2 separate regions of the Homo sapiens genome follow, and region 1 is linked to region 2. Evidence: fine-mapped expression QTL. A gene starts in region 2. The other region holds a variant in brackets. All regions are shown on one strand. Distances are between the middles of the regions.

Region 1 (4,529 bases), 90 kb before region 2:
CCCACCAGAAGCGTGAAGGAGGTGGTGATGTCAACAAGAACATATTCATGGTTTAAGCTGCCTAAGACATCAGAAGATTTGGCTGAAGGCTTTTCGATGATCTCTCCCTTGGGTAGGTAATTACTCCAAAGATTCTCTGCAGTGGGAAAAATGGGAATTTAAGCAGCAGCAGTATGAAAAAAAAAAGATAATTAATTTTCTACCCAAACATTCAAAATCAGGCTCCTCATTTATACAGTTTCTAAAGGTGTGTTTGCTTCTACATGAGCACATGTATACACACACATTGCACAATAAAACACACATAAATAAAAACATAGTTTTTTTTTTGTTTGTTTGTTTTTTGAGACAGAGTTTTACTCTGTCACCAGGCTGGAGTGCAGTGGCACAATCTTGGCTCACTGCAAGCTCTGCCTCCCAGGTTCACGCCATTCTCCTGCCTCAGCATCCTGAGTAGCTGGGACTACAGGCGCCTGCCACCACGCCCAGCTAATTTTTTATATTTTTAGTAGAGACGAGGTTTCACCATGTTAGCCAGGATGGTCTCGATCTCCTGACCTCATGATCCTCCCACCTAGGCCTCCCAAAGTGCTAGGATTACAGGCATAACCCACGGCGCCCAGCTAAACATAATGTTCTTTCTTATCTAATTTAAATATAATTTGACAAAATGATTTGGTACATGCAAATATAGTTTAACTTTACTAATGCAAATTAGTAAAAGTTAAACAGACTAAAACTAAATGCCCCACAAATCCCATTATTATTTGTCATCAGTGCTGTTTCTAACACCTTAATGTAAACTTACTTATGTGCAAAGAAATTTATAGACCAAACATTTATAATAGAAGACACTTAAGGAATGTTTCAGGAATTTAGCTAAGTTAGGAAGATACATGTGGATGTGGACATTAAAACAGGTCTATTCTGTCAGTGCAGGAAGAACATTGGCAATTTTACAAGAATACACGGAATATTTTACCGTAAGGTTAGAAAGTGATTTGCTCAACTCTGCTCTGAAATGGAGGTGAATTTTAGCAGACATCACTCTGTAAAGGAGTACTGAATAAGGACAGCTTTACTAATGGAAAAGCAGAAATATGGTGAATTAAGAGCTGTGTGGTGTGCTTAAGAAGGGAATTAGCACCATGGCAGTGAATCTTTATGGACAGTAGAGGAATCTAAGATGACAAGGCCTATTTTCCCCAGAAAATAGGAAAAAACTTGTCCAATAACTCCCTAACTTACCTGTAATTATACCACTAGCCAATCCAGGAATGCCCTGGATTGAAGTGACGTTATTGTGAACAAAGTATTCATCACAGGTGGCATTGAAAAATTGACTCGAGTTACAGAAGAATCCCCATAACTTTGATGGGACTGTCATGTTGTTAATTTCCTTGGTCTTAGAGCAAACGTCAATGTGTCTTGATGAAAGGGTGCGGTTACCCAGCATGCAGACCCTAAGTGAAAAGAAATAGGGAGAAAGATCAAGTAAGGAAAAAAAGTACATTAAAAAAAAAGGAAACAGGTTAGTAAAGGAAACAAGAACCCCATCTTTAAGAGCTTCTACTGTTATGGGTGGGAAAGGAACTAATGTTTATTTATTTATAATTTATTTTAACACTGTGAATGGTGACTTACATTTTCTGCCAATTTAATACTTACAGCAACCTCACAATGTATTAGAATTTCTATGTTGTGGATGGAGGCACTGAAGTTTAGGAAGACAGGGAGTTAATTGAAGGTTAGGGAAATACAGTTATCTGTCCAAGGTCATAGGTGGTGGCAGTGAAGGAAGTCAAATTGAAGAACTGTCTGAAGACATTATGCTGACTCATCTTCCAAAATTTTTGGCTAAAATTGTTAGGTCTAAAAGAATACTGAAGTCCTTTTGTTGTTCTTATAAAGTAAAAAGCACTCCTCTTTTTTTGGCCTAGAAAAGCCTAACATTCATAACAAACACCTTGAAAATGTTATGCTAAAGGTTGAATCTTCTGGCTACTGTTGCAAGGAAAACAGCTTGGTCAGAATTAAAAGGCAGATCCCTCTATGGCCTAAGAGAAAACTGTTTTTGAATTTAAGCCTAGACTCAGTGGGAGTGACGGTAAGGATAACATAAATATTAACCTGCTGGTTTTACTTTTTTCTTTAACCCAGAGACACAAATATAAACAAAGGAATAATACATCCATAGTTAAAATACCTCTCAGGTCCAACAAAGGGACTTCTAAAATTTGCAAAATGATTGAATACATTATTATGAACCATGTACCTATTACTCAGCTTCAACAACTCTCAACATTTCCCAGTCTTGTTTCATGTATTATTCTAGATTTTTTGTCTTGTTTTGCTGGAATATCTCAAAGAAAATACCATGCATTATGACCGTGTACTAATCAAAAAAGAGGAGAAGCCCCAAAGGTGAACCTGAGACAAAATGGAATTTCCCAAATTGAGATATAACCAGAATGTCACCTTTAGAAATTTTATGCCCCTAAAAAGGACCTTCAGCTGTATTACAGTCCCTAGATAAGCAGATTAAAAGTTTAAGATGGAATCTACTTCTGCCATCATGCAGCATAGCATAGAAGAAATACTGAATGGGGAGTCAGGAAATCACAGTTCATCTTCTTGCTCTGCCATTAATTAACTTTGAGGTAAGTCATTAAACCTACTGGAACTGTCTTTTTGTCTTGAAAAAT[CT/C]TTTTTTCTGTAATCTGGTTAAATCAACATAGAACCGATGAGTTTGATCCTCAGATAATCCAGATGACTCTTCAAGATAATTCTGTAACAAGACTACAAATAACACTGAGTGCCAGCTAGTCCCTATGCCACTAGTCAAAGGGAAAAGTGAGCCTGTGAGTCACAGATGTGCACAAATCCATTACTACTTCAAAAAACATACTTTAAAGTATTCGCACTAGGGAGTTGAAGGAGGTGGTGAATGATGAGAGAGTACTTAATGGGTACAAAGTACATTATTTGGGTAATGGATAAAAGCCCTGACCTAGGCTGGGCGCAGTGGCTCACGCCTGTAATCCCAGCACGTCGGGAGGCCAAGGTGGGCCTTATAAAGGTTGCTGGCAATAACTACACTGTCTGCAAAGCCCTTTATGAATAGTTCAAAATGTGTATAATAAAAAAAGATTATGTACAATTATCAGGGAGAAAAAAATCTAATATCTGAACCTAAATGATGGTTACAGCTACTAGTTCTATGCTTAGGACATAAGAAAGAGGATGAACGGGACATAGTTTGCTGGTAGGCTTCCTGCCTAGATGAGGAAGGAAGTCTAACTGGGCTTATCTGAGAGGGAAAATCTCAGAGAGACTCTATGAAATTCTGACTTAAAATTATCACACCACCAGATATTTTCAATTACTACCCAATAAGGATGGCTAGGCAGAGAGACAGACACGTACGGGAAGTGTGGAGGAGCAAAAGAAGACTTGATGGCTCCAGCATAGATGGCCAAGATGGACACAATGACACAGGCCAGGAAAAGTGAGGCAAACTTGTTCACATAGCGTACGCCGATAAATACCACTAATACCATAAGGACCAAGAAAGCTGTGCCGTAGACACGCATGTTATTTAGCATGGCTGCTGATTCCTTGAGTGCGTCATCACTGTGAAAGATGGCAGCTCGGGGGACGATATAGACCTGTTAGGTAAAAATAAAGGAGAAAATTAGGTTATTTCAAAATAATTAAGTAAAAAGGCTGTATTCGTTTGCATTTACTTTCACAAAAGAAAGCAAAGCTGAGAGAGAAAATGACTGGGGAATTAGCCTAGTTTCTAATAGGATCTGAAATGCCTTCAGAAATGGGATGTCATGGATTTTTTTTTTTTTTTTGGTCTACATGCTGTTCTGAATAACTACATTTCCAAATGGAAAGAAAGGAAAGGAACAAATTATTAATTTTATTCATAGGGTTATATAAAGTAATTATAATGATGATCTTTAACCCTGACTCTACTATCACTACTTTAAATAGTAAACAATATGTCTCAGTGAAGAGAGATATGAGAAGCATTTTATTTCATAGGGATGAAGATATCAAAAAAGATAAACTTTATTTTACTTTTTCCCCATTGGACTTGAACCTCTTGGATGAGGTGGCAGAGTGGTGGCAATCAGGTAGAAAGGAAGGGACAGGCAGGCAAACAGAATTTCAACCTTTCCACCTCATATTCATGTAAGAGGCCAACTGACGTTGGCAGTCAATCACCTGATTTATTCCCACAGCTGATCTCTCAGAAGCTTTCATAGCAAAGAATAAACCTAAATCAATATTTCTTCTATATTATAGACCACAATGAAGTCATTACTTACCAGAAAGATTTCAATGGCACCAAGGATGTACATGGCTGCTGCAAATGTGGTACCAAGATAAAAGCAGAGGCCAACAGCCCCACCAAACTCTGGGCCCAGTGCCCGGGAAATCATAAAGTATGAGCCCCCAGCTAAAAGACAAAACAGAAGGTGAATAGAAGAAAGAGTGTGTATTAGCAAGAGGAATAT
Region 2 (4,235 bases):
GTGGTGGCGTGCACCTGTAATCCCAGTTACTTGGGAAGCTGAGGCAGGAGAATTGCTTGAACCTGGGAGACGGAGGTTGTAGTCAGCCAAGGCTGCACCCCTGCACTCCAGCCTGGACAACAGATCTAGACTCTGTCTCAAAAGAAAAAAAAAGAAAGGCCCACCACTAAATCAATTTGAGTTCAAAGATAAGTTAATCAGGAGAAAAATCAGACTAAACAGGTTAAGTAACTTTCTCAAAGTTATACAAAAAGCAAATACTGGTCTTCTGACTTTCAATTCACTGACCTCTGTCTGTAATATGCCTATTACTTTTACAAGTACTCTTCCATTTTTAATCAAAATCTTATTTCAAGGGACAAGAAATTACGTTAAGTGACAACAGAGGTATTTTTCAGTGAATGCTGACAGCTGTGAAAGTCTTAATCTTTCTTCCCCAATACCCTCCTATCATGAACAGCACATGACCACTCTTGCAACAGCAGGACTGAAGTTTTTCTTCCAAGTGGTATTGTTGCAACTCTCTGGGGTACTCTCCTTTATCATCTCCCTCCCTTTAAAAAAATACTGCCAATCCTTTCCTCCAACAACTCACAAAATAAGAGTTTTTCAAATCATTTTATCTTTAATAATCTTGTAGTAATTTAAAATATGAGAAAAAAAAGTCAAATGTGTTCCCTTTATGGGTGATGCCACCATGATTGCCTCACACAAGCATAATCAATCGCCACGAGAGACTGGATGCCAAAGAGTATGGCTGGCAAAAAGGCATCAGGGCTCACAGTCCGAAGAGTTTGGTTACGGAGTCTCCGAGGGGTAACAGGTGGCAGAAAAGACATCAGTTTAAGGGACCCTCAGAGGACAGGGCGCGGTTGCTGGGTCATGAGCACCTTGAAGCGTTTCTTGATGGTGATTCGGTGTCGAGAGTATTTGTCATCTGGGGAGAACCGAGCAGGATGGGCTGAGCAGGTCTGTTGTCCCATCGGGTCAAATTTCTGCTCCAGGAACACAGAATGTATGTCAGTACAGGAGTGATGAAATGGGGTGGGGCCAGCGCGAAAAAGGGCAAACATGAAAATAGAAGATGCAATGGTCAACTCAAAAAGTTGTACAAATAAATAGAGAAATATAAAATTTAAAAAGGCCGAGCGCGGTGGCTCACGCCTGTAATCCTGGCACTTTGGGAGGTCGAGGCGGGAGGATGGTTTGAGACCAGCCTGGGCAATATGGCGAAACCTCGTCTCTACAACAAACAAACAAACAAAACCAACCAACCAAACAAAAAACCCCAAAACCAAAAATTAGCCGGGTATGGTGGCGCACGCCTGTAGTCCCAACTACTCGGGAGGCTGAGGCAGAAGGATTGTTTGAGCCCAGGAGGCGGAGGTTGCAGTGAGCCGAGACCGCACCACCGCACTACAGCCTAGGCAACAAAGCGAGTCCCTGTCTTTAAAAAAAAAAAAAAAAAAAAAAAGGAAAAGTGAGTGCAATGGCGCTATCCCGGCTCACTGCAACCTCTGCCTCCCGGGTTTAAGCGATTCTCCTGTCTCAGCCTCCCGAGTAGCTGGGATAACAGGCGCACACCGCCATGCCCGGCTAATTTTTTGTATTTTAGTAGAAACGGAGTTTCACAGTGTTGCCCAGAATGGTCGCGAACTCCTGAGCTAAGGCAATCCACCCGCCTCGGCCTCCCAAAGTGCTAGGATTACAGGCGGGAGCCACTGCGCCCCGCCAGAATTTTTTCTTTTAATTAAAAAATGAGTCGCGCGGTCCCGGTTCTTCCCCACCTCGGTTCTGGACTTTCTGGTTCCCCGCACCCAGCTAGGTAACTCCACGTATGACCTCACCCACTCCTCCCATCTACATTTCTCGCCATGCCTATTTACACCCTGTTTTCTCTCCTCACCTTCAGCGTATAGACTCGATCTCCCTGCTCGTTGAGGTAATACTGGAGAAACATGATCGCTTATAAGCCAGCGGTCCCAATTCGGTCCACCGCTCAGTCTGCAGTGGTCCGCCCGACCGCGTCACGTGTTCGTCAATTTCCTTCCTGCATAACCGGAAGTCTCTCTCTCCTGGCACTCCGGAAAATGTAGTCAATTTTTGCCTTGTTTTCAGCTAGCCAGAAGGGGGCGCACGAGAGCAGGGCTTGGCTTGGGGCCCTACTTGCAACTTTGCAGGCTAAAACACGTGGAGTGTCCCTACTGTGTGCTAGGTACACGGCGTTAGAGGGGGGTAGGGATGGATGTGGATAGAATATTGACGTATAGAAGCCTGTCTTTGTCTCAAGATACACACCCATTTCAGGAGCAGTGAGTTTTCAATGCCTGAAGAAACAAGGGCTCCAGGATTCAGAGCCCCTTTACCCTAGGGAAGAAAGAAGAGGTTTTCTTCCCTCCCCTCTTTTACATCCAGTTCCCCTGCTCCATTTCAAAGCGTTGGCGGTAAAGAATGCATGTTGAGTATCAATATTCCGTAAAGCGAAAGAGCGTAAAGTTATTTTATGAAACTGGTGAAGCATGTTTCAGCGGTCGAACCAAGATTTAAAGTTAGGTCCCTACCGCAAATTCAGCGCTCTTTCTTATGGTGGTGAGTAGCTAATAATAACGTAATAAAGTGCACCTTCTAGGAGTTTTTACAATTTTTAAAAGAATATAGAAGTTCTCCTTATAAGACTCTCGTTTAAAGAAATGAAAATGAGAACCAAAATATCATTACAAAGATCATCGTTACGCCATTATTTACAATGACAAAAGCATTGGAATATATATTAACTGTGTAACCAGAAAAACCTGCACTTTTTTTTTTTTTTTTTTAAGAATATGGTTTGGCGGGGCGCGGTGGCTCACGCCTGTAATCCCAACACTGGGAGGCTGAGGCAGGCAGATCACAGGTCAAGGGTTCGAGACCAGCCTGGCCAATCTGGCGAAACCCCGTCTCTACTAAAAATACAGAAAAATTAGCCGGGCGTGGTGGTGGGCGCCTGTAGTCCCAGCTACTTCAGAGGCTGAGGCAGGAGAATCATTTGAGCCGGGGAGGCAGAGGTTGCAGCGAGCTGAGATAGCACCACTGCACTCCAGCCTGGGTCCGTCTTAAAGAAAAAAAAATATGGTTTGTGGCTGGGCGCGGTGGCTCACGCCTGTAATCCCAGCACTTTGGGAGGCTGAGACGGGTGGATCACAAGGTCAGGAGTTCGAGACCAGCCTGGCCAATATGGTGAAACCCCCAAAAATACAAAAATTAGCGGGGCGTGGTGGCGGGCACCTGTAGTCCCAGCTACTCGGGAGGCTGAGGCAGGAGAATCACTTGAACCCAGGAGGCGGAGGTTGCAGTGAGCCAAGATCACGCCACTGCACTCCAGCCTGGGCGACAGAGCGAGATCCTGTCTCAAAAAAAAAAAAAAAAAAAAAAGAATATGGTTTGTATTTACTTGTAGTTGCATAAAAAATCTCTGCAAGTATTCACAAGAAACAGATGATACTGGTTTCCTCTGGGATAGAGAACTTAGTTGCAGGAGAAAGGGGTAAGGGTTGGGAGGCAGACTTATTGCTATGTATTTTATTACGCAGTTTGATTTTTGAACCTTGCTAATGTATTTATTACCTGTTAAAAATTTTTTAAAGGCCGGGCACGGTGGCTCACGCCTAGTAATCCCAGCACTTTGGGAGGCTGAGGCGGGCGGATCATGAGGTCAGGAGATCGAGACTATCCTGGCTAACACAGTGAAACCCCGTCTCTACTAAAAATACAAAAAATTAGCCGGGCATGGTGGTGGGTGCCTGTAGTCCCAGCTACTCAGGAGGGTGAGGCAGGACAATGGCGTGAACCCGGAAGGCGGAGCTTGCAGTGAGCAGAGATCACGCCACTGCACTACAGCCTGGGTGACAGAGCGAGACTCTGTTTAAAAAAAAAAATTTAAATCTAAGTAGTTAATTTTGTTAGAAAGGAAAATGATGATTTTAGCCTTCAGGTCTTTAGAAAAGAGAAAAGATATCTCAGAGGAAGCAAGAAAGATGCCATGAACCCCAGGGAAGGCCTTTTGGGGGAAATCCACGTTTGGATGAAGCTGTGGCTGTAGAGGATGCTCTGGGAGTTACTGGCCTGAAATAGTCGCCAGGAACCTTAGCAGATAAATTTTATTTTTAAAGTTTAAACCAAAATAATTTAACAAAAAGAAGGACTTTCTACTCTTGAAATTTTAAACTGCATGGCAGCTTTTTTATTTAGTGAGGCTT

What was found. PIP is the estimated chance that this variant, and not a neighbour inherited with it, causes the effect. A credible set is the group of variants that fine-mapping cannot tell apart.
Region 1: its variant is the best candidate, but not a certain one, in a credible set for the expression of NOP10 in unexposed skin (GTEx, PIP 0.89).

The regions. Positions count from the first base shown.
Region 1 is chr15:34,250,922-34,255,450 of GRCh38, forward strand. SLC12A6 (solute carrier family 12 member 6) reads right to left here. Exons shown (of 26, transcript NM_001365088.1): 8 at 4,341-4,471; 9 at 3,427-3,668; 10 at 1,249-1,463; 11 at 1-136. Among named protein-coding and RNA genes, the nearest start is that of EMC4, 28 kb to the left of the region's middle. The variant CT/C (reference allele first, on the strand shown) is at 2,706.
Region 2 is chr15:34,341,114-34,345,348 of GRCh38, forward strand. It overlaps NOP10 (NOP10 ribonucleoprotein), which reads right to left and starts at 2,023. Exons shown (of 2, transcript NM_018648.4): 1 at 1,907-2,023; 2 at 606-995. The coding sequence starts at 1,960. The coding sequence ends at 855. NUTM1 (NUT midline carcinoma family member 1) reads left to right here and starts at 2,202. Exons shown (of 8, transcript NM_001284292.2): 1 at 2,202-2,589. The coding sequence starts at 2,584. RefSeq lists silencers at 1,766-1,875, 1,956-2,055.